Linked DNA regions of Homo sapiens. The protein of the gene in region 3 interacts with the protein of the main gene of each other region in a pairwise test. Each region holds a gene or a part of one and is shown on either strand. Other genes may lie near its edges. The genes, in order: SNRPB2, MTSS2, ALAS1, C2orf42, KLHL35, ZNF175 and WIPF1.

Region 1 (3,500 bases), on a different chromosome or scaffold from region 3:
GTTTAAAAGAAATTTTCCATCTAGTTTTCTGCCAGAAAAGTTGTTCTGTGGGGACTCTGCCAAACCAGCCCTAGTGTTCTGTGGGCCTATTCTATCTGTAAAACAGGATTAGTCTAGAATGGCGATTTTCTTTATTTTTCACCAGCTCCCTCAAATTGCATCCCTAGGTGCTCCCTCTGTGACTGTGGGGTGAGGGTAGGTTTGGAGAGGAAAGGGCATTTGGCCTCCAGTGGGCTCTGGAGCCACAGTTCTATGTCAAGCTGAGCAGTTTTGCTTTTGTTTGTTTTATATGTTGTTTGTTGAATACCTCTGGATTAGAATAGCTGATCTTGAGCCAGATCCTCAGGCACTGAGGAGATTTGAACAGTTCAGGATTCCAAAGCCCGCTGGTGGAGCCCACTCATTTGTTCCTTTAACACTTCAATGCAGTTTTCTCTATTCTTTGATTAAATGGAGAGAAGCCGTGGTACAGATATTTCAAAGTCCTGTGTTTCTCACATGAAAATATATGTTTTTTTAATCTAATAAACACACTTGAATCTAACTTTGTCTAAATTATGAATTATAGCCCACAGTTTACTTCCATTTGGCACTCAGTATATTCTGACAGATTTTCTTAGGGATATGTTTAAAATTAGCTTGTAGTGTATTTGCGTAATGAAATTTGAAATATTAATGACTAGTGTAAACATCCTTCAGCATGAGAAGTAACCTGTTTTCAAATAATTAAAACAGCGAATACAGTATGCAAAAACAGATTCGGATATAATATCAAAAATGCGTGGAACTTTTGCTGACAAAGAAAAGAAAAAAGAAAAGAAAAAAGCCAAAACTGTGGAACAGACTGCAACAACCACAAACAAAAAGCCTGGCCAGGTAAGAAAGACCAAGAAAGTTCCTGTTTGTATTGGTGTTAAAAACTTGATAGATGCTTGTCTTACAGGTAAGGAATGATCTTAGGCTTGTCTGTATATGTGCATAAATGTGTGTTTAAAAGGTGGTTTTAAGAAGCTAGAATGGTTGACTTATAAAATTCAGTATTAAGAAACAAAATATAAACCTTAACATGGAGATTTATATTAAGCAGTTTTATATTTGCATGGCATTTAATTCGATCATTGTTTAAAATATGTTAATACCTTTTGGTTTATTTCTCAAGTTTTGCTGCCTATAAATAATACTGTAGTTATTATCTTTAATCATGAGTACTTCACTCAAAGTATCTTTCTGGCTGGGCGCAGTGGCTCTTGCCTGTAATTCCAGCACTTTGGGAGGCCGAGGCAGGAGGATCACGAAGTCAGGAGATCGAGACCATCCTGGCTAACACGGTGAAACCCCGTCTCTACTAAAAATACAAAAAAAATTTAGCTGGGCTTGGTGGTGGGTGCCTGTAGTCCCAGCTACTCTGGGGGCTGAGGCAGGAGAATAGCATGAACCTGGGAGGTGGAGCTTGCAGTGAGCCGAGATTGTGCCACTGAACTCCAGCCTGGGCAACAGAGTGAGACTCTGTCTCAAAAAAAAAAAAAGAAAAAAAAAAACCCAAAAAACAAACAAAAAAAACAGTGTCTTTCTTTGAACAATTCAGTAATGCAAAATATAATTTGAAATACCAGATAAAAGTGAAATGAACTGCTTGGCGCCATGGTGGCTCATGCCTATAATCCCAGCACTTTGGGAGGCTGAGGTGGGTGGATCACCTGAGGTCAGGAGTTCAAGACCAGCCTGGCCAACATGGTGATACCCCGTCTCTACTAAAAATACAAAAAATTACCTGGCCGTGGTGGTGGATGCCTGTAATCCCAGCTACTCAGGAGGCTTGAAGCAGGAGAATTGGTTGAACCTGGGAGGCAGAGGTTGCATTGAGGCAAGATTATGCCATTGCACTCCAGCCTGGGTGACAAGAGCAAGACTCCATCTCAAAAAAAAAAAAAAAAAAAAGTGAAATTCACCAAAAAGTAATTACTTCTGGATTGAAAGTGATTAAAAGTCAGTTTTATTAAATGACTTATGTCCAGTTGTTTTTAAAAGTAAGACTAGGCCTTGGTTTTCTCTTATATATTTCTCCATAATTTTAAAGCTAAGAGGTTAAATTTTATAATATACTATTTAAAGTTTAGGGCTGGTCTTAACAAAAATAACCGACAAATTAAGAACATGAGTGTTTGAGTCAGTGTTAAGATATAAATTCTTAAAGTAAAATTAAATGGAGTAAGAAGGATATCTCTTGGAATTAATGTTATTTTTAATGCAGTAATTATAAATATAAATACCTGCTGCGTTTTTGGAGGGATTGGATATTTAAACTCTCCCTATTTATTTTGCTTAGGGAACTCCAAATTCAGCTAATACCCAAGGAAATTCAACACCAAATCCTCAGGTAATTTTTTTTCCATGTCGTGCTTACCTTAAAATAAGATTGTAAAAATTACAGCAGTGGTATAAAACAATTTCCATGTCTCCAAAAACAAAATGATTTCATCTACAAGACACAGTGCGTTAAATTGTCTGCCACTGCAATGTAAGAACTCAACTCCTGAAGAACATTTTAATTCTTTTTTAGAGAGAGAAAACGACACCTGACTTTATTTCTTGTTTTCCATAATGAATCAATGACAGAATCAAAATGACAGACTTTAAACTCTAAGGGCTGGGAGCAAACATTTTGGTTTCCTCTACAGTACCTAAAGCTTTACACAGTTGCATGGGTAAGGGTAACTGGCAGGGTCAGGGGCTCTCTTCCATTCCAGTTGGTTGAAACACTACAGTGTTACACTCTTTGGGCACATAGTTTTATAGTTAACCTTTGCTCTCACTTCCTGAACACAAATAAATTCCAGCCTTTTTTTTTTAAGCCTCCTTGTACAAATGTTTTAGAAACTCCGTATTAAATCTCCCCATGACATACCTCAAAGAGAAGGCCTCAGTAATGTGCTGATGGTTTCATACTTTTTTTTTTCCAGATGGCGGGGTCTGGCAAGATCCTTAAATCCATAGAATTCTCTGTACCACTGAGGTTTTTCTCCTCTTGTTTTAAGTTACTTGGGTTTTTTATCTCCTCAGCATTTATAGTCCAGTTCACAAATGCCAGCACTTAATCCTCTAAGCCTTGAGTTGTTCACTAATTATTTTTTATACTTGCTCTTTTCTCTTTTATGACAGTAGCAGGAAGACAGAGCTCTTTTCTTATATAGAAGACCCTTTCTTTAGTTCCCCATAACCTCTGGGTGGGATATCAAATGAGTAATATCTAATAAACTAAGTGTTTGTTACTGCTTGTTTGTATGTAACTAGATGCTGTGTATATCTCATTTATTTGCCAAAAATAAGTAAATTAAAAGTCCCTAAGCAGTGGTTCTCGGTGGTAATCTTTCTAGTTCCAATTTTTTTTTTTTTTTTTAGTATGCTGGGAAGTAGTAACAGTACAGAGGAATTGAGTATCTGAGTGATACTGAGTGTGGTAACCAGCTACGGAGGGGTGACATTGCTGGCCATCTCTAATT
Region 2 (3,500 bases), on a different chromosome or scaffold from region 3:
CCCCAGTGTTGACATCTTACTTTATGTAACCACCAAAAACATTTTTAAAACCAAGAAATTAACACTGGTATAATACTAAGTAACGTACAGTCTTCTATTTTTGCCAGTTTTCTCTCTCCTGTCCTGCTGGTCCAGGGGTCCATGACCCAATTCAGGACCCTACATAATGTTCCCGGGTTTTTCTCTTTTCCTTTTTTTTTTTTTTTTTTTTTGAATTTTGCTCTTATCACCCAGGCTGGAGTGCAGTGGGGCAATCTCGGCTCACTGCAACCTCTGCCTCCCAGGTTCAAGTGATTCTCCTGCCTCAGCCTCCCAAGTAGCTGGGATTACAGGCATGCGCCACCATGCCCAGCTAACTTTTTGTGTTTAGCAGAGACGGGGTTTCACCGTGTTGGTCAGGCTGGTCTCGAATTCCTGACCTCAGGTGATCTGCCCACTTCGGCCTCCCAAAGTGCTGGGATTACAGGCATGAGCCACTGCCCCTGGCTAGGACCCTACATAGTGTTTCGTGTTGGTGTCACCTCAGTTTCTGCAGCTCGTGACAGTTTCTCACACCTGTCCCTCTTTGTTTTTCATGACTTTGATACTTTTGAAGAATATCGGTCAGATGTTTTGTAGGATGCCTCTAAATCTGGCTTTGTCTGATGCCTTTTCATTCAGAATTAGAAGCCATACAGTTTTGGCAAGAGTACCACAGAAGTGCGGTTGTCCCCATGTCAGTGCATCCTAAATGCTGCACAATGTCACTGCGTCGTGTGACTGCTGATGTTCACCTTGATCCTTAGTTAAGGTGGCGTGTGCCAAGTTTCTCCACTGGAGAGTCATTATTTCTCCCTTTTTAATTAATAAAATATCCTGTGAGGGGATACTTTTGAGAGGATGAAAATGTCCTGTTTCTCCTTGTACTTTTGCTCTCTAATTTTGGCATCCACTGATGATTCTTGCTTGTTAAAATAGGTGACTTTCTATTTCTGTCATTTCTCCTACATTTATTAATTGAGATTCTACCATAAAAAGATCTGTCCCTTCTCCCCCATTTATTTATATATTCAATTTTTAATTTATATCAATATGGACTCATAAATATTTCTTTTATTCTATGGGTTATAACCCATCACCATTGAGTCTTTCAGGAACTTTTTTTTTTTTTTTGACACAGACTCTCGCTCCATTGCCCAGGCTGGAGTGCAATGGTGCGATCTTGGCTACTGCAACCTCTGCCTCCCAGGTTCAAGCCATTCCCCTGCCTCAGCCTCCTAAGTAGCTGGGATTACAGGCACACACCACCACACCCAGCTAATTTTTGTATTTTTAGCAGAGGCGGGGTTTTGCCATGTTGGATCACTCCTAATCTCAAGTGATCCGCCTGTGCCAGCCTCCCAAGTGCTGGGATTACAGGCATGACCTGCCACACCTGCCCAAGGAACTTTTTTATTGAGGTATTCTAAACACACCGAGAACAAGAACGTAAGCAGGATAACCACCACTCCTGAAGCCAGCAGTGCTCTGTTAAGTCACTACACACCCAAGGGTAACTGCTATCCTGACTACTTTTGACTTTTTTTTTTTTTTTTTTTTTTTTTTGAGACAGGGTCTCACTCTGTCACCCAGGCTGGAGTGCAGTGGCACAATCCTTGCTCAGTGCAGTCTCAAACTCCTGGGTTCAAGCAATCTTCCTGCCTCAGCCTCCCAATTAGCTGGGACTACGAGTGTGCAGTATCATGCCTGGCTAATTTTTATATTTTTTCTTTTATAGAGATGGGGGTCTCACTATGTTTCCTAGGCTGGTCTCGAACTCCTACCTTCAAGCAATCCTTCCTCTTCAGCTTCCCAAATCACTGGGATTTCAGGCATGGCCTAGTTTTGCCCTTTTTATCCTTTCTACATGTATATATGGAATCATATAGTATGTATCCTTTATGTCTGGCTTCTTTTTGCTCAGTTATGTTTATGAGATTCAGCCATGTTTTAGGTGGAAATATAGATCATGCTCATTGCTATATGGCATTCTATTGTGTGAATATGTAATTTAACCATTTTGATGGACATTTGCATAGTTTCCAGTTTTTTGGCTATGATGTTGCTAATAGTGCTGCTGTGAACATTCTAGTATGCAGTTCTGTGGGGCACATTCCTAGGAGCAGAATTGCAAAGTCATGGGATATGCACATCTTCAGATTTGATAGGTACTACCAGACAGTAAGCCAAGTGCTCATACCAATTTACCCTCCTGTTAGCAAGATTAGGACAGTGTTTTGTTTTGTGTCGTTTTGTTTTGTTTTTGAGACAGAGTCTCACTCTGTTGCCCAGGCTGGAGTGCAGTGGTGCAATTTCAGCTCACTGCAACCTCCATCCTTGGGATTCGAGTGATTGTCCTGCCTCAGACTCCCGAGTAGCTGGGATTACAGGCGCATGCCACCACACCTGGCTAATTTTTGTATTTTTAGTAGAGATGGGGTTTTGCCATGTTGGCCAGGCAGGTCTCAAACTCCTGACCTCAGGCAGTCCACCCCCCTCAGCCTCCCAAAGTACTGGGATTACAGGCATGAGCCACCACACCTGGCCAAGATTATGACAGTTCATTGCTGTTCCACATCCTCACCAGCGCTTGGCATTTTATATTGATTTCATTTTAGCCATTCTAGTGGGTGCAGAGTAATAGTAGTTCCCTGTATATTTTGTTTGCATTTCTCTAATGCTAATGAGATTGAACACCTTTTCATACTTTTTTTTTTATGAGACAGAGTCTCACTCTGTTGCCCAGGCTGGAGTGCAGTGGCATGATCTCAGCTCACTGCAACCTCCGCCTCCCGGGCTCAGGCAATTCTCCTGCCTCAGCCTCCCGAGTAGCTGGGATTACAGGCGTGTGCCACCACACCTGGGCTAATTTTTGTATTTTTAGTAGAGACGGGGTTTCACCATGTTGGCCAGGCTGGTCTTGAACTCATGACCTCAGGTAATCCGCCCGCCTTGGCCTCCCAAAGTGCTGGGATTACAGGCATGAGCCACCATGCCCAGCTTTCATACTTTTTTATAAGAGATAGGGTCTTGCTATGTTGCCCAGGCTGGCCTCATACTCTTGGGCTCAAGCAATCCTCCTACCTCAGCCTCCTGAATAGCTGAGACTACAGATGTGTGCCATTGAACCCAGCTACCTTTTCATACCTTTAAAGACCGTTAGAATATTCCCTTTCATGAAGGACCTTTTTAAATCGTTTGCCCATTTTTCTACTGGATTATCTGTCTTCTTCTTACCAATTTATAGAACTTTTTAGTATTGCAGATAAAGTTCCTCATCGGATATCTTCTCTCCTTCTATTGGGTACCTTTTTATTGTCTTAATGGGGGTCTTTTAATGACCAGAAGTTCTTAGTTTTAAAATAGTCCAGTTTATCCATTTTTAAATTGTTAGTGCTATTTGTGTCCTGCTTGAGAGATTTTTGCCTACTGCAAGGTCACAAAGATGTTTTCCTCTAAAAGCCTTTTGGTTTTGCCCTTTT
Region 3 (3,500 bases):
TTCCAGAATGATGAAGAAAGACTTTTCTAGAAAGAAGGTGAATGAATTTGCTCAAGGGGAGAGGGAAGTCACTGTAGCTAGAAGGATAATTACCAGCCAACGGTGTTTAGTCAGCAGACTTTGATGAATTTAGATGAGAAAGTAGATGAGGTATGTGAATGTGATATACCCCTATTTTTTCTTACTTTATTAGCAATCTAAAGACCTAAGTCTTAGTCTAATTTCTGTTGTTTAGATGAAAACCAATAGCTTTTATGTTAAGCAACAGCAAGCCTCTTTGTCAAGAATCTGTTTAGAAAATGTCAGCAGAGACAGGATGTGGTGGCTCATGCCTGTAATTCCAGCACTTTGGGAGGCTGAGGCGGGAGGACTGCTTGAGCCTAGGAGTTTGATAGAAGCTAGGGCCACATAACAAGACTCCGTCTCTACAAAAAATAAAAAATAAAAAGAATTAGCTGGGCGCAGTAGAACACCTGCAGTCCAAGCTACTTGGAGAGCTAAGGTGAGAGGATCACTTGAGCCTGGAGGTCAAAGCTGCAGTTAGCTATGATTGCACCATGCACTCTAGCCTGGTTGACAGAGTGAGATCCTGTTTCAAAAAAAAAGGAAAGGAAAATGTTAGCAGAGAAAAAAATGTGTGTGAATATTTCCCGTTACCTTACAGAGTGTGTCCTCTCATAAAATAAGCTGAGTGTAGTTGGGGTAGAAATTACTGGAAATGATCCAACTCAAGGATTCCGGGTTGTCTAAAACTAGAAAATGGTACTTTTTTTGGATTTATGACGAGAAATACTGTGGGTTTAAGAGGCAACTGGAATGTGCCAGTTAACTCTTCATAGACGCATTGTTTCCTGTGAAGCAGATGAAAAACTAGAGAGATTAGCAGAACCTAATAAAAATAAGCTTGTGGCTGAGTGCAGTGGTTCACGCCTATAATCCCAGCACTTTGGGAGGCCAAGGCAGGTGGATAACCTGAGGTCAGGAGTTCAAGACCAGCCTGGACAACATGGTGAAACCCCATCTCTACTAAAAATACACAAATTAGCCAGGCATGGTGGCACACACCTGTAACCCCAGCTACTTGGGAGGCTGAGGCATGAGAATCACTTGAACCCAGGAGGTGGAGGTTGTAGTGAGCCAAGATTGTGCCACTGTACTCCAACCTGGGGTACAGAGCAAGACTCCATCTTAAAAACAAAACAAAACAAAAAAAACACTTGTGTCTGGATGGTGGGGTACAGTAAGTATTAAGTTTATCTTTGAGGCAATAAAAGAAAGAAATAAGTGGTTTTCTTACATACTGTGCAACCAGATCTGATGCTTCACTTTTTCCATTTCCTCCCTCAGAAGACAAAACTGCTAAGGCCAAGGTCCAACAGACTCCTGATGGATCCCAGCAGAGTCCAGATGGCACACAGCTTCCGTCTGGACACCCCTTGCCTGCCACAAGCCAGGGCACTGCAAGCAAATGCCCTTTCCTGGCAGCACAGATGAATCAGAGAGGCAGCAGTGTCTTCTGCAAAGCCAGTCTTGAGCTTCAGGAGGATGTGCAGGAAATGAATGCCGTGAGGAAAGGTAAGAGATGAGTTGTGAACCATTAGTGGTAGTGAAGGGGTCCTTTTAGTTCTTTTGGGCCCTCAGATTTGTGTATGAGCTATTATTAGGGCAGTATTTATGGAAACACCTTCCTCTTTTAGGGCCAGAGAGGAAGGTCTTCAAGATAGACAGTCAAGGGACTGTATTGCGAAAGTGGGACTTTCTTTCTGGTGCGTGTGTGGGATGTGACCAGCTTTTATAGTTACTACTTAATTTCTGAAAATAACCTGCAGTCTTGAGCTGCCACCAGCTGCCTTTTGTCCCTTTGGTCTTTCCCATCATCTGCTAGGATAAAGATAGAAAATAATGGTTTTACTGCAGTAAGTGCTGGTCCTAGGGCTCCCAAGCCGTGTGTCTTACTGATGGTCATTGAATTGCAACCTTAACTCCACAATATATAGGTGTGGCTATATCTGCAGAGAACTCAAGGCTCCCCAAAAGCCTAACCAGCAGAAATTATGCATATGGCCAAAATTGTTTTCTATGAAGAAAATTGAGATTAGGACCAGGCCCAGTGGCTCACACCTATAATCCCAGCACTTTGGGAGGCCGAGGCAGGTGGATCACTTGAGGCCAGGAGTTTAAGACCAGCCAGGCCAACATGGGGAAACCCCATCCCTACCAAAAATACAAAGATTAGCTGGGCATGATGGCGCATGCCTATAGTCCCATCTTCTCAGGAGGTTGAGGAGGGAGGATCGCTTGAACCCAGGAGGCAGAGGTTGCAATGAGTCGAGATCGTGCCACTGCTCTCCAGCCTGGGTGACAGAATGGGACTCTGTCTCAAAAAAAAAAAAACAGAAAATTGAGATTAGGATTGGGGTGGGGATGTAGTGGAGTGAATAAGACATGCCAACCAGCAAGAAAGCTTTGGACTTTATTGTTCATTAAAGCTGGCCAGTAGCTCTGAAAACAACACCAAGAGTCTGCCATTACAGTAACTAAAATAGAAGAGATGCTTTGTACACTCAGTTATAACTAACTTTGGTTATGCTTGGCCTTTTTTGTGAACTAGGCCATAAGCCATTTTTGACAATATGTTTGGAAGATATTGTGAACTCAGAATAGAAAGTTGGTCCCATTTGTTTCTTGTTACTTTTGTTCCAGAGGTTGCTGAAACCTCAGCAGGCCCCAGTGTGGTTAGTGTGAAAACCGATGGAGGGGATCCCAGTGGACTGCTGAAGAACTTCCAGGACATCATGCAAAAGCAAAGACCAGAAAGAGTGTCTCATCTTCTTCAAGATAACTTGCCAAAATGTAAGTCTCATTGTTATTTGCCTGATGTAGAAAAGAATTTATAATTCAAATGTACATTAGATTAAATATAAAATTGCATGGTGAGGCTGGGCACAGTAGCTCATACCTGTAATCCCAGCACTTTGGGAGGCTGAAGCGGGAGAAGATCACTTGAGGCCAGGAGTTTGAGGCCAGCCTTGGCAACATAGCAAGACACTATCTCTACCAAAACAGTTTTTTTAATTAGCCAGGCATGATGGCTTGCATCTATAGTCCCAGCTACTCAGGAGGCTAAGGTAGGAAGATTGCTTAAGCCCAAGACTTCAAGGTTCAGTGAGCTATGATCACGCTATTGCACTCCAGCCTGAATGACAGACAGAGACTCAGTTTCTAGGAAAAACAAAAAAATGTATGGTGAGTTGAGGCTTGAAAGCCATATCCCTTGCTTGCGTGAGCAGGTGCTTTTGGTTGTGGTGACTACAGGTGCTGTTGGTAGCCTGCCTTCTGTCCTTTAATACTTACCGTCTACACATGGCACTGAGCCAAACACGACATACAGTCTTATTTACTTACAAGATGAGGACATCAAATAACCTGCCCAGGATCTCCCTCAGTTGCCAAGCTGAGACTTGTTGTATTTCACCAAAATGCAGCTGTGTTTCACAACC
Region 4 (3,635 bases), on a different chromosome or scaffold from region 3:
GCTCTGTTGCCTAGGCTGGAGTGCAGTGGTGCGATCTTGGCTCACTGCAACCCCTGCCTCCCAGGTTCAAGCAATTCTTTTATCTCAGCCTTCTGAGTAGCTGGGATTACAGGGGCGTGCCACCACGCCTGGCTAATTTTTGTATTTTTAGTAGAGACGGAGTTTCACCATCTTGATCAGGCTGGTCTCGAACTCCTGACCTCATGATCTGCCCGGCTTGGCCTCCCAAAGTGCTGGGTTTACAGACGTGAGCGACTGCACCTGGCCCTGCTATTCACCTTAAATGCACCTACTCTCCTCCAAGTCCCCTTTGCAGTCATCAAGAATTCAGGTACATGAGTGGGGAGGGGTGTGTGTGAGATGTTCTAAAGGAAACGAAGTGGCGCTGCTCATTTGCTGCTCTGTACAAGTACTAGCCAGGGCACAAACAGTGAGAGAGACAAAGTATTTTCCTGCCTTTTTCCATGTAGCCTCCCTTTATGAAGGAAAGATGGGATATGCTATGGCCAAAGTCTGGGTAGGTTTCTTTCCATCCATCTCCACCTGTTTTATATTTCCTCCCAGAAGCTGCCAGTAGTCTTAGTGTTCATCAGTTGTAAGTTTTTATCTTTTTCTATGTCTTCATTGATATTTAAGTGAAAAGTTGGCAGCAGCTCCAGATATCATTTGAAATGGAAGCTAGAATGTCTGTGACAAACATGAACTAGATAATACCTAACATTTATATTCTATGACTAAAAGAAACCAAACAGACCAAAATACCCTGCCAATGAAGTTGTTAGTCTGGGGTGGGTGGATGGATGCTTTGTTTCTCATCATATCAGTGATGTCTTAGTCTTTGTGAGAAAGGACCAAAAGAAGTAGAGGGAAGGAATTTAAAAGGGGTGACTATTTAGGCTAAAGTGGAGGGAGAGTAACATAGTGAAGTTAAAAGTAAAATATAAGCCAGGCGCAGTGGCTCACGCCTGTAATCCCCACACTCTGGGAGGCTGAGGTGGGAGGATCATCAGAGGTCAGGAGTTCGAGACCAGCCTGGCCAACCTGCTGAAACCCTGTCTCTACTAAAAATACAAAAATTAGCTGGACATGGTGGTGCGTGCCTGTAGTCCCAGCTACTTGGAAGGCTGGAGAATCACCTGAACCCAGGAGGTGGAGGTTGCAGTGAACCGAGATTGCAACACTGCACTCCAGCCTGGGCAACAGAGCAATACTCCATCTCAAAAAACAAACAAACAAACAAAAAAGTAAAATATTAGCTTATGAAGTCAAAGATTTAGTAGTGCTGAGAGAAAAATGTATATACATTGTTAATTTTTATAATATAAAAATGTATATACATTAATTAATCCATCCTTCTTGTTTTTTTATTTTTTGGGGGTGTTTTTTGAGGCGGAGTCTCACTCTGTTGCCCAGGGTGGAGTGAAGTGGTGCGATCTTGGCTCACTGAAGCCTCCACCTCCTGGGTTCAGGCGATTCTTCTGCCTTAGCCTCCCGAGTAACTGGGATTACAGGAGCATGCTACCACACCTGGATAATCTTTGTATTTTTAGTAGAGACGGTTTTGCCGTGTTGGTCAGGCTGGTCTCAAACTCCTGACCTCAAGTGATCCGCCCACCTCAGCCTCCCACAGTGCTGGAATTACAGGTGTAAGCCACTGTCCCTGGCCTATCCTTCTTGTTTTCTTGTATTACTTTGTTTTTTTGAGACAAAGTCTCACTGTATTGCCCAGGCTGGCATTGAACTACTGGGTTCAAGCAGTCCTCCCACCTCAGTCTCCCAAGTAGTTGGGACTATGGGCACATTTCACCACACCTGGCTAATTTAATTTTTTGTAGAGACAGGGTCTCACTTTGTTGCATAGGCTGGTCTTAAACTCCTGGCCTCAAGCTATCCTCTCGCCTTGCCCACCAACACTGTTGGGATTACAGGCATGAACTACCATGCCTGGCCTAAATATATATGTTTTAACTTCATGATGGCTGGGCGTGGTGGCTCACGCCTGTAATCCCAGCACTTGGGAGTCTGAGGTGGGCGGATCACAAGGTCAAGAGATTGAGCCATCCTGGCTAACACGATGAAACCCCATCTCTACTAAAAATACAAAAAATTAGCCAGGTGTGGTGGCACGTGCCTGTAATCCCAGCTACTCAGGAGGCTGAGGAAGGAGAATCGCTTGAACCCGGGAGGCAAAGGTTGCAGTGAACTGAGATTGCGCCACTGCACTCCAGCCTGGGTGCCAAAGCGAGACTCCGTCTCAAAAAAAACAAAATAACCCAAAAACTTCATGATGATCAATAAATCTGATATCCCAATCACCACTGAATTTATAAACCTCATTCGGCCTTCTGATTATCAAAGCTGAACAGGCTGCTCCAATTCCGGACACTTTTTTTGCAATTAGGAACACCCATTAGAGTTAGGTGGAATTGTACTAATACTCCTTTCTTCTCTTTAGGCAACACTTCCCCAGATCAAAAGGAGCCAACACCTTTCATCATCGAGTGGATCCCAGATATCCTTCCCCAATCTAAGATTGGCGAGCTGCGGATCAAGTTTGAGTATGGCCACCACCGGAATGGGCATGTGGCGGAGTACCAAGACCAGCGGCCCCCCTTGGACCAGCCCTTGGAACTGGCCCCTCTGACCACTATTACTTTCCCTTAAAGCAAAACAAGATAATAATCTTTTGCTGCTTAATTTGCACATCCCCACCCCTTGACAACTTTAAATGCTAGTTAGGCACTTAGATGGCCCTGTTCCTTGGTAAACTGCTCTTAGCTAAGATGCAAATTCTCAGTGCTTTCAAGTGGATTCTGTTGAAGAAAATCTCTTGTAAATAGCCTTTTTGATGCTGCTGTGTACAGTCTTCATTATGCATTGGGCAGTATTTCTGGCTAGAGTTTTAAAAGGAACAGAAAGAAAACCAGCTTATTTTCCTTCTTACGGACTCATCTTTAGCGTTTATTTCAACCTTTTGCTAATTCTCTGAGAAATCTGCAGCACTCAGCCATACACCAACAGTGTTGGAAAGTTAACACCCTGGTTAGGGCAGAATGTTAAAGACCATCTTGGCAGAGTTCCAGCCACGCTCTTTATTCTGTTCTCAAATAAAGCAGTGTCACTAGTTTTTCCTAATTATATCTCATGGTTGCCTGTTTATAAAATTATAAATTTCGGGGGGGGGAGGCGGGATTTAACTGATAGTGATACTGGAAAAAGAGATCCAGGTGTGTCCGGAATTGGTGGGTTCTTGGTCTCACTGACTTCAAGAATGAAGCCGCGGACCCTCGCGGTGAGTGTTACAGCTGTTAAGGTGGCGCGTCTGGTGTCTGCCCCTTCTGATGTTCAGATGCGTTCGGAGTTTCTTCCTTCTGGTGGGTTCGTGGTCTTGCTGGCTCAGGAGTGAAGCTGCAGACCTTCGCGGTGAGTGTTACAGCTCTTAAGGCAGCGCGTCTGGAGTTGTTCATTCCTCCCGGTGGGCTCGTGGTCTCGCTGGGCTAAGGAGTGAAGCTGCAGATCTTCGCGGTGAGTGTTACAGCTCATAAAAGCAGCATGGACCCAAAGAGTGAGAGCAGTAGCAAGATTTATTGCAAAGAGCGAAAGAACAAAGCTTCCACAGTGTGGAAGGGGACCCG
Region 5 (3,500 bases), on a different chromosome or scaffold from region 3:
GTGCGCTTTCTCGAGGGCCGCCTGCGCGCCGCCAACAGCCTAGCGCTGCGCCGCGTGGCCGCCGCCTTCTCGCTGGCCCCGCTGGCCGAGCGCTGCGGCCGCGTCCTGCGTCAGGCCTTCGCCGAGGTGGCGCGCCACGCCGACTTCCTGGAGCTGGCGCCTGACGAGGTGGTGGCGCTGCTGGCGGACCCCGCGCTGGGCGTGGCGCGCGAGGAGGCCGTGTTTGAAGCGGCCATGCGCTGGGTGCGCCACGACGCGCCGGCCCGCCGCGGCCAGCTGCGACGCCTGCTGGAGCACGTGCGCCTGCCGCTACTGGCGCCCGCTTACTTCCTGGAGAAGGTGGAGGCGGACGAGCTGCTGCAGGCCTGCGGCGAGTGCCGCCCGCTGCTGCTCGAGGCTCGCGCCTGCTTCATCCTGGGCCGCGAGGCCGGTGCGCTGCGGACCCGGCCGCGGAGGTAGGGCCGCCATCCCCTAGCTTCCCGCCCTCCGTTCTTCCCGCCTGCTTCCACCGCTCATTCATTCTTTCATCATCTTTTAGTACTGCCTCTTGATGATATTCAGTCATTCGTTCAACATTTTAGAGGCTCGGTGCCCATAATTCTGCCCTTGAAGAGTTAACAAGCCAGTGAGGGAGATGCAGAGACCCCACAGCTGCGCACACTCTCTTTGGCCCATGCAACCGTAATTCCGAGTACTTACTACTCTACGCAAGTTCTGTGCAGGGTGCCGGGATGCGGAAGTGATTTGAAAACACTCTTTGCCCTCTGGGAGCTCGCAGTCTAATGAGGGATAGAAATAGGCAGGGGCATGGGGAAGTAGTGAAAGCAGCCTGCCCCACCTTTGGAAAGCCAGACTGGGAGGCTCTGGGCAGAGTAGCCCTTAATCATGCCCCCAGAGACGACACTCTCTCTAACACTAAGCACAGGGCCTGGGACAGAGATCCTCAAATATGTGCCAAAGGAATTAGAAAACCAATGGCTAAAAGGGTATGGAAATTCTGGTGGCGTCAGATGGTGGGGTCAGTGAGAGGGAAGAATGATTTACTGAAAGGGTGAGTTATCCGGCTTAATGGAATTAGGGATGAGGGGATGTCATAGGAGGAGGGAGGCAGCAGAATCAGCGGTTGGAGGTGAGAAAAGGGTGTTGAAGATGAGTTAGCGACAGACAAACCTGGGCTTGAATTCCAGCTCTGACGCTTAATGGCTTTGGGCACGCCATGGTATGTGAGCCTCAGTTTCCTCCCCTGAGAAAGGGGTAATAATCCCTACTAATAGAACTGCCATACAGATTAAACGAGGTGATTTTTCTAGGTGAGGGCAAGGGCTCTGTAAAGATTTTTTTTTCTGTAGTTTAGAGGTCAGCAGAATGCGGTAAGCATTAGCGATTCTCTTCCCAGTACCCACAGGCAAAGTTGGAAGTGGCAGGGTCTAGCGGGATTGAGGCCGGGGGATCGGGTGGGCGGGGGTGATGGCAGAAACGCATGAAAGGGCAGCGGGACCGTGCAGTGTGGTCGAGAGGGTAAGAGAGGGCCGAACTTGGGTGCGGCCCAACAGGCACTGGGCTTATCCGCACGCCAGATTCATGGACCTAGCTGAAGTGATCGTGGTCATCGGCGGTTGCGACCGCAAAGGTCTCCTGAAGCTGCCCTTCGCCGATGCCTACCATCCAGAGAGCCAGCGGTGGACCCCACTGCCCAGCCTGCCCGGCTACACTCGCTCAGAATTCGCCGCCTGTGCTCTCCGCAATGACGTCTACGTCTCCGGTGAGGGCGGAGCCGCAACGGGAGCTCACACGGGATTGACTAGTAGCCTCCGCACTCCACCCCCTTTGCTTTTCCCTCCAATCGGGAGAGAGGGGCGGGATGTTTTCTGATAACCTACAGTTATTGGCTGAAGTGAGCAGGGCTAACTACGCGTGTGACCCGCCCTTTATTCAGGAATGTTAACTTCAATACATATGATTACTTTTTGTTCTGAACCGGCTTCCTAAGGAAGTCAATTCGTATTAGTATTAATAATCACTTCAACTAGCCTACTATGTGCCGAACATTATGCTAAGAAGCTTACATTCGTTATCATTAAATCCCCCTACAATGCTGTTTTACAGATAAGAAAGGCTCGGAGAGGCTCAGAATTTCCCCCATTGTCTCAAAAATGGCAAAGCTAGGAGGAACACACATCTGTTTGATACCAACAAACTGTGTCCTCCCTAAGGCTCAAGCCCTAAAGACTCAGAGAAGCATAAAACACAGTCCTTGCTCCCCTGGAGTGTCCTGGAGAGGAGAGAGACTTCACTTTTACTGCCAGGCAGAATGTGATCAGAATTCTCAGAGTCCCCAGATGATCTGGAATGCCACTCAGGGAATCTAGCCAGGGTTCATAGAAGAGATGACTTTTCAGCTGGACCTTGAAAGTTGGAGGGAACAGTATGGGCAAAGGCACAAGGGCAGGGACATGCAGAAAGGAACCCTGGGGACTCAGGGCTCTGAAGTGCAGGTTGAGTATCACAGGTGAGGCAGGAGTCAGATCAGGGAGGCTTTGAGTCTGGGGCTAGGTGGATTGACCTTAATGTTGTAAAGAACTATGGGTGCCTGCAAAGAGTAAGGAGCAGGAGAATAAGCCAGGGAGGCCTCACAGACCATCCAGGCCACAGATTACCACTGGACAATTTATCCAAGGCCATTGATGGCTCTGAGCAACATGTGGGGCCTTTGTTGGGTGCCACTAGGAATAAACAAAGATGGGGCTACCAAACAGATGTGGCTCTGGTCACAGGCTCAGGCTGAAGGGTGCAGTTAGGGTTGTCCCCAGGGAGGCTCCCATTGAGAGGTGAATCCCTGGCCAAGATCCCCAGGGTGGCCAGACATGGGAAGGGAGAGTCCACATCCTGCATCCCCAGTACCTGGCCCCATAGGGCATGCCATGTCCTCCAGCAGCACCAATGCTGGGCCTGGAGCCAGAAGCTCTGGTTCTGGCTCTGACAAAAGGCCATGTAGTCTTCAGCAGGTCATTGTTGGTCTCTAAGTCTCATCTGAGTTTCTTATATGTAAACTGGGTCTAATATTCCCAACACCTCATGGAGGGATGAGATCAGAAATGAAATTGTGCAGGTGAAGGCAGAAGGGAGGGAGGGTTATTGGGTCACCCTCTACCTATCCTGGCTCCCAGTGCAGCTGGCTCTGCTTTTCCTGGATCCCCAGTACATTCCAGATGCTTGCCTTAGGTACCCTTTGTACTCTTACCTTTAGTACAGCGGCCCCCTCTTTGCTTTCCTGAGCACAGAGCCTGGCACACCACCACCACCACCACAAGGTGCCCGGCGAAAACCAGCCCCTTCTTCCTGAATGTGTCAGGCTTCTCCCCTCGAGGGTCGTAACTCAGACATTCCCACCACTTATTCAAAGCACACTGGGTCACAGGTCCAGAGTCTTACACCAGCTCAAGAAGTCCTCCTGCTGCCTTCCCTTAACCCTTCCTTTGGATCTGGGGGCCCTAGTTTCT
Region 6 (3,500 bases), on a different chromosome or scaffold from region 3:
AAGTATTAAAAGAAGGGAACATTAACACAAAATAAATTGCACATATAAATCATTTTCAAAATTGTAAATACCCCAAATATTTAAAAGTCGTTCTTAAAAGAAAAATTGAAACATACAAGTTTAGGTGGGGCACAGTGGCTCATGCACTTTGGGAGGCCGAGGCGGGCGGATCACTTGAGCCCAGGAGTTGGAGACCAGCCTGGGCAACATGGCGAGACTCTACAAAAATACAAAAATTAGCCAGGTGTGGTGGCATGCACCTGTAGTCCCAGCTACTGAGTACGTTGACGTGGGAGGATCACCTGAGCTTGAGGCGGTCAAGGTTGCAGTGAGCTGCAATCATGACACTACACTCCAGCCTGGGCAATAGAGTGAGACCCTGTCTCAAAACAAAACAAGTTTAAAACATGAAATTGTCTAAGTCTTTGTGACAGCAGTGCAGATGCACAAACGTTTCTCTCATTTGCATTGATGTTGGTCAACTTGCGTGTTCAGAACATCTTCAAGTTTAGCGTTTTAGGACACATGTTCAATATAAGCTTTTTTCCTTTTTTAACAATGAAATTTTTTTTCTGCTTGACCTGATTTCCAGTTTATCATTTGAATCAATACTGCTGTCGCTAATTCAGATTTTCCATCAGTGTCTGAATTCATGTCAGAGTATATCCCAGTACCATGCACATTATCTTCTCTTTGTGGTGTGTATTTCCCTCTGCTCTGGACAGTACTATTTTTATTTTGTTATTTTTATCTTTTCTAATGTGATGGAAATAAAGATAGTATAGTGTTTTAATTTGCATTACTTTGTTTACAAACAGGCTTTTTTTTCATAATTTTATTGGTCAATTACTTGTCTTTAGTGAGTTACTTTTTCTTACCTTTTGATTTATATTTTGGTTTGGTTTAGCCTCCGGATTTTTAGAGAGGTTTTTTTTTTTTTTTTTTTTTTTTTGAGACGGAGTCTCGCTCTGAAGCGCAGGCTGGAGTGCAGTGGCGCAATCTCTGCTCACTGCAAGCTGCACCTCCCGGGTTAACGCCGTTCTCCTGCCTTAGCCTCCTGAATAGCTGGGAGTACAGGCGCCTGACAGCACTGCTGGCTAATTTTTTTGTATTTTTAGTAGAGATGAGGTTTCACCATGTTAGCCAAGATGGTCTTGATCTCCTGACCTCGTGATCCGCCTGCCTCAGTGTCCCAAGAGAGTTCTTACACAGTAATAACCTAAGGTCCTTTTTGCATATGTTTGTAAATACTTTTTGTTACTTTTTCCTTTGAAAGTAGGTTTTAGTTTTGTTTGAACATAGGAAAGAGGATCAGATGGTTTTGTGAAGCCTGTAATCTTTTAAAAGGGCTGTCACTTGCTATATTTTTACCAAAGTTCCAGCTCCTCCCAGGCAATCACATTTTACATTTTTAGCTAATTATTTTGGCATTTACCTCCTAATCTTTTAGTGACATGCTTATATTGCTGCCTCTTGGATTGTTAATTAACACGTTAATTAATTAAGAAACATGTCATTAAAAGGTTTGCTTTTACCCGCTTCCTCATACTTTCACCCCCAACACCTGCTTTCCTTGCCCATCCTTCTCTAGAACTGGTTCAGATTCTGATCAGGTCAATCTTCCTTGTTTGTGATTATGACTGTGTAAACTATATTCAGAGCTGCCTGTATAGACACCCTGATAACTCTCTGCCTGCATAACTTACGGTTTTTCCCTGGAGCACACAATTTTATGGATTATTTACTTGCCTATATACATGTTAATGTATTATACCATTTTCTCCAAGTGTGTACACACTGTCTTCATAAATTGAATTTGTTACTAGGTAATTGCAAACCCTCGCTATTTCAGGGACAGTTTTTTTTTTTGTTTTTTTTTTTTTTTGAGACAGAGTTTCGCTCTTGTCTCCCAGGCTGGAGTGCAATGGCGCGATCTTGGCTCACTGCAACCTCTCCTCCTGGGTTCAAGCCATTCTCCTGCCTCACTCTCCTGAGTAGCTGGGATTACAGGCACTTGCCACCACGCCTGGCTAATTTTTATATTTTTAGTAGAAACAGGGTTTCACCATGTTGGGCAGGCTGGTCTCAAACTCCTGACTTCAGGTGATCCGCCAGCCTCGGCCTCCCAAAGTGCTGGGATTACAGGCATGAGCCACCACACCCGGCCTTCAGGAACAGTTTTAATCCTCATAACTTTGCGAGGTACTGCTGCCATTATCCCCCCTTTACAGACAAGAAGACTGAGGCACAGAATGAAATAAGTGGCTCAAGTTTACATAGTCAGCAAGCAGCCAGCCTGGGATTGAAGGCAGGCAGTTTGCTTGAGGGTTGGGGCTGTCAATGCCATCTCCTTGAGGAAACCTTTCCTATTGCTTTTTTGTCTTGATGCGATTGGACCTGGCTGTTCTCCTGGCGCCTCACGCTGTCTTCTCATGGTGCTGTGTTCACCATCACCTGGGAATTCTTTTTTTCTCTGTCAAGTGTCCAGTTCCTTGTGTCTTGAATCCTTTCTTGAATCCTTTGGCTTTCTCTTCCACGGTTTACCGTTACTCTCATTTCGTGAAAGTGCATCCCCTAGGAGTTCTTGGGGACGGTACACGGCAGTAAATCCTGTGAGAACTTATCTGAACATGTCTGTTCAGATAACGGAGACTAAACTTAAGAATAGGAGAATCACTTGACCCAGGAGGTTGAGGCTGCAGTGAGCTGTGATGGCACCACTGCACTCCATCCTGGGTGACAGAGTGACATCCTGTCTCAAAAAACAAAAACGAAAACAAAAGACCTGAGAGGTTTACATATATGAGCATGACATGAAAGTGAAATGATATGAAAATGAATGATATGAAAATGTCACGCCAAAAAGCAAAGATCATATATTTGCATATTTAATAGAAAGATGTCACGGAAAATGACTTGATTTACCCTCACACTAAGTTGATCTTTGCCTGGGTTCATAGGTTGGAAATCATTTTTTTCTTCCTAAAACACCCCATATACTACTTCCTTACCACACACATATAGTCTCTCTGCTCTCAAATCCTGAAACTCTTTATTTTTAAGCTGTTAGTCTCCATTTAAAAGGGTTTTTATGCTCTGTCATTTTCTATTTCTTTGGTTTTGGACCCTCTTTCTGGAAGAATTTCTCAACTTTATTTTCTAGCCCTCCGATAATCATTACTGCCTTAAAAAATTTTTAAGAGCTTTTAGATATGAATACTCCTTTTAATGACATGATGTTTTTGTTTAATGATTGAACTATCTTACCTAAGGATATTTGAGATATTTTAAAATGTAATTTTATGAATAGATAATACACAGCATTCACAAATTAAAACATCATGAAAAGTAATTTTTTTACAAAATACTCCTTTCTCTCTCTTTTTTTTTTTTTTTTTTGAGATGGAGTCTCACTCTGTCGCCCAGGCTGGAGTGCAGTGGCACGATCTTGGCTCACTGCAAGCTCCGCCTCCCGGGTTCACGCCATTCTCCTGCTTCAG
Region 7 (3,500 bases), on a different chromosome or scaffold from region 3:
GCTAGGACTGCCATAATAAAATACCACAGCCTGGGTAGATCAAATAACAGAAATTTGTTTTCTCCCAGCTCTGGAAGCTGGAAGTCCAAGATCAAGATGTGGGCAGGTTTGGTGTGTTCTGAAGCCTCTTTCCTTGGTTTGCCACCTTCTCACTGCGTCTTCACTTGAAGACTTTCCTCTGTGTGAGCACATGCCTGATGTCTCTTCCTCTTTGTATGAGGACACCAGTCAAATTGGATTAAGATCTCACCCAATGGCCTCATTTTAGCTTAATCACCTCTTTAAAGACCCTATCTCCAAATACAGTTGCCTTCTGAGGTCCTGAGGGTCAGGAATTCAGCATATCACTTTTGCAGGGGACATAGTTCAGACCGTAATACTGTATGTGAAAACAAAAGCCTTTTCTGTCCCTTGAGTTTTCTTTGTGTTTGTAGAAGTCAACACACCAAGTAAAGATTTTAGAAAGTCTGGCTTTTCTATCATGAAAGTTACTTAACATTGAAATTATTCTTAAAAAGAAATTAATTCTGAAAAGTGTGACTTCTTAAAAGTTCATTGCTTGGGTTGGGGTGGGGTAGGAGGGCAAGGCCCAGCAAGTGGGTAGGCATGTGATCCGACACTACTGAGAGCCCAACTAGTCTGGGAAGCCGGACACAGGCACAGCAGATTCTGATGCAGGAGATGACTGACCACACTGGGAAACTGCTGCTGAGTCCCTTCCCTTCTTGCGTCTCTCCTGCACCCGAATCAGCTGCCTTTCCTGCCATGCTCCCATCTCCAAGGGAAGAACCAAATGCTGGGAGGCCCAGTCATCAGTCAGCCTCATTCCCACCCAGGCAGATCCACCCACAGCCACTGAGCAAAGCTGTGGCCCCTCAGACTAGCCTCCAGGTCCATCCCTCCTCTGCCAGGCACTCAGCAGCTTGTACCAGCAGGACCCATCCTCACCCTCTGAAGGACAGAGCTAAGCCCTGTCCACTGACAGCTTTGCTCCCCCAGGCCATGCTGAAAGCCTTGCACACACCATTTCATTTAATCTGCTCAGCAACTTCCCATTTAACAGATGGGAAAAACAAATTCCCATCTGAATCTGCCAGGTGGCAGAGCAAGGATTCAGAACCAAATTTGCCTGACCAAGGTCTCATGTTCTCCCTTTTTCATTCTATAAACCCACTGGTAAAGCCCAAAGGACTCCTTTTTTTAAAAAATTTAATTTTAATTTGTTTTTATTTTATTTTATTTTATTTTTAGAGATAAAGGGCTCACTTTGTAGCCCAAGCTAGTCTTAAACTCCTGGGCTCAAGCAGTCCTCCCACCTTGACCACCCAAAGTGTTGGGATTATAGGCATAAGTCACCACTCCCAGTCCCAAAGGGACCCTTTTGTGTCTACGTTTAAATGCATAAAATAAAATACAGAGAATTACAAAGGAAACTAATTTATTAAAATATGTACTTCTTTATTAATGGTTTAAACAACAAGATCTAGCAATGGATCTAAACGTTGCCAGCATGTTGAAAATTGTTGGTGTGTAGTTGTAATATGATGTGAAATATCACGTGAAAACTATGGGTGAAAGAATATCAGATATTATGGTTTGTGGCCTGCATTCATAATCAAAGGAAATGCTACATTTCAGTTAGTGCTTAGTAGAAATAATATGTACTTTTTTTTCATACAAGTTCATGAACCCTTGAATTCTATCCACAGACTCTGGGTGTGAGGATCCAGGCAGGAATGCCTGGTCTGTTAGGATCCGTGCTCTAGGGCCAAGGCCTTCAGTAAGATCTGGCTGTGGCTCTGATGTGGGCTGTCAAGTCCATGAGAGGAGGGAAGCCCTCCTCTCCCAGGGCCTTGGGGCTCTACTTCTCTGGGGAAGTTGGAGGCTGCCAGGAAAGTAAGTTCCAGTCTGCAACACTAGCAAGCCCCTCTGAAATAGGGCTGATTCTTTTGCCCAGATCTCACAGTGCGGTGGGGTGATGCTGGGAGCCCTTCAAGTGGCAAGCACTCGGCTTGTTTGTGTGATACACAGTTCTTTCACTGCATATATATTTAGTAAGAACCCTACTTTGTGCCAGGTATTGGCAAGACCCCATGGAGTCCATAGGCTGGTGGAAAGACAGCCAAGAAGTGGGCCTGGTGTGGCCGGTGGGCCCAGTGTTGGGGCACACGAGCTTGGTCTTTGATCCAGGGGCTGAGTGAGGTGGCAGTATTGGAGTCTGGGGTTTCTCACACACTTCCCTTGAGGCCCCAGCCTGGAGAAGTCCAGACCGTGCCCAGCAGTTGTTCAGCTAGAAGGGAGGAGAGAGGACATGGCAGCCTCCCTCATCTGTGTTACCATTGAGATTGGAAAGGGACAGTTAATCTGGAGGGGAGTGAGAGATGGGGCCAGGGAAAGCAAGCCATGCAAACAAGTTCGCAGAGGAAGAGAGGAAAGAGCACTTAGTTCTGCATCACCCTCTAAAAAGTGAGAGCCCTCACCCGTAGACCCTCTCCCCACTGTCCATCTGAAGTGGCCAGGAAGGAAAGGCAGCACTTCTTTCAATACCTCAGACCCTTTAATAGCATCTTGCTCCCTGAACCTTGTTTTTGCCTGCTAATTTCTGCAATCTGGCCTTGGCTCTGGCCCCAGCCATGACTGTTGCCATTTCTCCCACACTAGCCCTCTGGACCATGAAGTTAACACGCCCTCCCTGGAGCTGTCATCCAGAAGTTAATATACAAGTCAGTTAGTGCACAGACAGTACTAAAACAGCAGCAACAGAGAATTGTAAAATAATTAAGGAGGCCTTTCAGGGTGGCAGCCCCTGAAAGGGTCCCCATTCCACAGTCTGCCCCCTAAGCTGTGCAGGACAGAAGTTCAATTTGATCTCTGTTACGAGAGCCGAACTCATGACAACCATACCCATAAGAGGTTCCTGTTAGTTGACCAGAATATCCACCCTTTCCTAGATATTAGGATCACAGAATGACAGAAAGTTAATCGGTGAACGTGGAGTCAGACAAAATAGTCTTGAGGGATTTTTCATCAACCAAGCACGTGGATGCACTGTTCCCACAGCCCATCTCTTGGGCCCACCGGGCAGACCAGGCTATCCCCCTTCCTTGGTAAGCCTTTCCCAACTCTGATCATACCATTGATTTGGCTCCAGCATCTTTCGCAGTAGTCAGGCCTGAATCAGATCCCTTTCGTTCCTGCTGGTCCTAGGAGACGTCTGACTCCAAGGCCTCTGAATGTGCCGCTGGAGATGCCCCTTGATGGAGGACCCCCTAACACAGGCACCCAGTCCTGCTCACAATGCCCATGTGGCCCTATGGGTGACTAATTGATGTCATGCCAGAAAGAGCAATTTAAGAAACAGACTTTAAAAGAATCCTTGCCTGAGACAGTCTCTTACTGAAAACAGATTCCAGCCTAGTTAACAGGTGAGCTGTGGCACTAATTCGCCTGCCTGAAAGTGTTTATCAGACCATTAAAAGGGCAGTGAGTGAGTGAGGCAG

The links.
Region 1: the proteins of ALAS1 (region 3) and SNRPB2 interact in binary tests that used the Homo sapiens proteins (3 or more experiments, as listed by UniProt).
Region 2: the proteins of ALAS1 (region 3) and MTSS2 interact in binary tests that used the Homo sapiens proteins (3 or more experiments, as listed by UniProt).
Region 4: the proteins of ALAS1 (region 3) and C2orf42 interact in binary tests that used the Homo sapiens proteins (3 or more experiments, as listed by UniProt).
Region 5: the proteins of ALAS1 (region 3) and KLHL35 interact in binary tests that used the Homo sapiens proteins (3 or more experiments, as listed by UniProt).
Region 6: the proteins of ALAS1 (region 3) and ZNF175 interact in binary tests that used the Homo sapiens proteins (3 or more experiments, as listed by UniProt).
Region 7: the proteins of ALAS1 (region 3) and WIPF1 interact in binary tests that used the Homo sapiens proteins (3 or more experiments, as listed by UniProt).

Annotation. Positions count from the first base shown.
Region 1 is NC_000020.11:16,736,526-16,740,025, forward strand, and holds part of SNRPB2 (U2 small nuclear ribonucleoprotein B''), read left to right. Parts: intron 1-735; coding exon 736-876; intron 877-2,326; coding exon 2,327-2,377; intron 2,378-3,500. UniProt on the Homo sapiens protein: Involved in pre-mRNA splicing as component of the spliceosome. Associated with sn-RNP U2, where it contributes to the binding of stem loop IV of U2 snRNA.
Region 2 is NC_000016.10:70,669,054-70,672,553, reverse strand, and holds part of MTSS2 (protein MTSS 2), read left to right. Parts: intron 1-3,500. UniProt on the Homo sapiens protein: Involved in plasma membrane dynamics. Potentiated PDGF-mediated formation of membrane ruffles and lamellipodia in fibroblasts, acting via RAC1 activation. May function in actin bundling.
Region 3 is NC_000003.12:52,201,160-52,204,659, forward strand, and holds part of ALAS1 (5-aminolevulinate synthase, non-specific, mitochondrial isoform 1 precursor), read left to right. Parts: intron 1-1,347; coding exon 1,348-1,575; intron 1,576-2,703; coding exon 2,704-2,853; intron 2,854-3,500.
Region 4 is NC_000002.12:70,149,385-70,153,019, reverse strand, and holds the end of C2orf42 (uncharacterized protein C2orf42), read left to right. Parts: intron 1-151; exon of another isoform or gene 152-331; intron 332-2,455; coding exon 2,456-2,664; 3' UTR 2,665-3,135; downstream 3,136-3,635.
Region 5 is NC_000011.10:75,426,704-75,430,203, reverse strand, and holds part of KLHL35 (kelch-like protein 35), read left to right. Parts: coding exon 1-455; intron 456-1,577; coding exon 1,578-1,762; intron 1,763-3,500.
Region 6 is NC_000019.10:51,574,283-51,577,782, forward strand, and holds part of ZNF175 (zinc finger protein 175), read left to right. Parts: intron 1-3,500.
Region 7 is NC_000002.12:174,587,805-174,591,304, reverse strand, and holds part of WIPF1 (WAS/WASL-interacting protein family member 1), read left to right. Parts: intron 1-3,500. UniProt on the Homo sapiens protein: Plays a role in the reorganization of the actin cytoskeleton. Contributes with NCK1 and GRB2 in the recruitment and activation of WASL.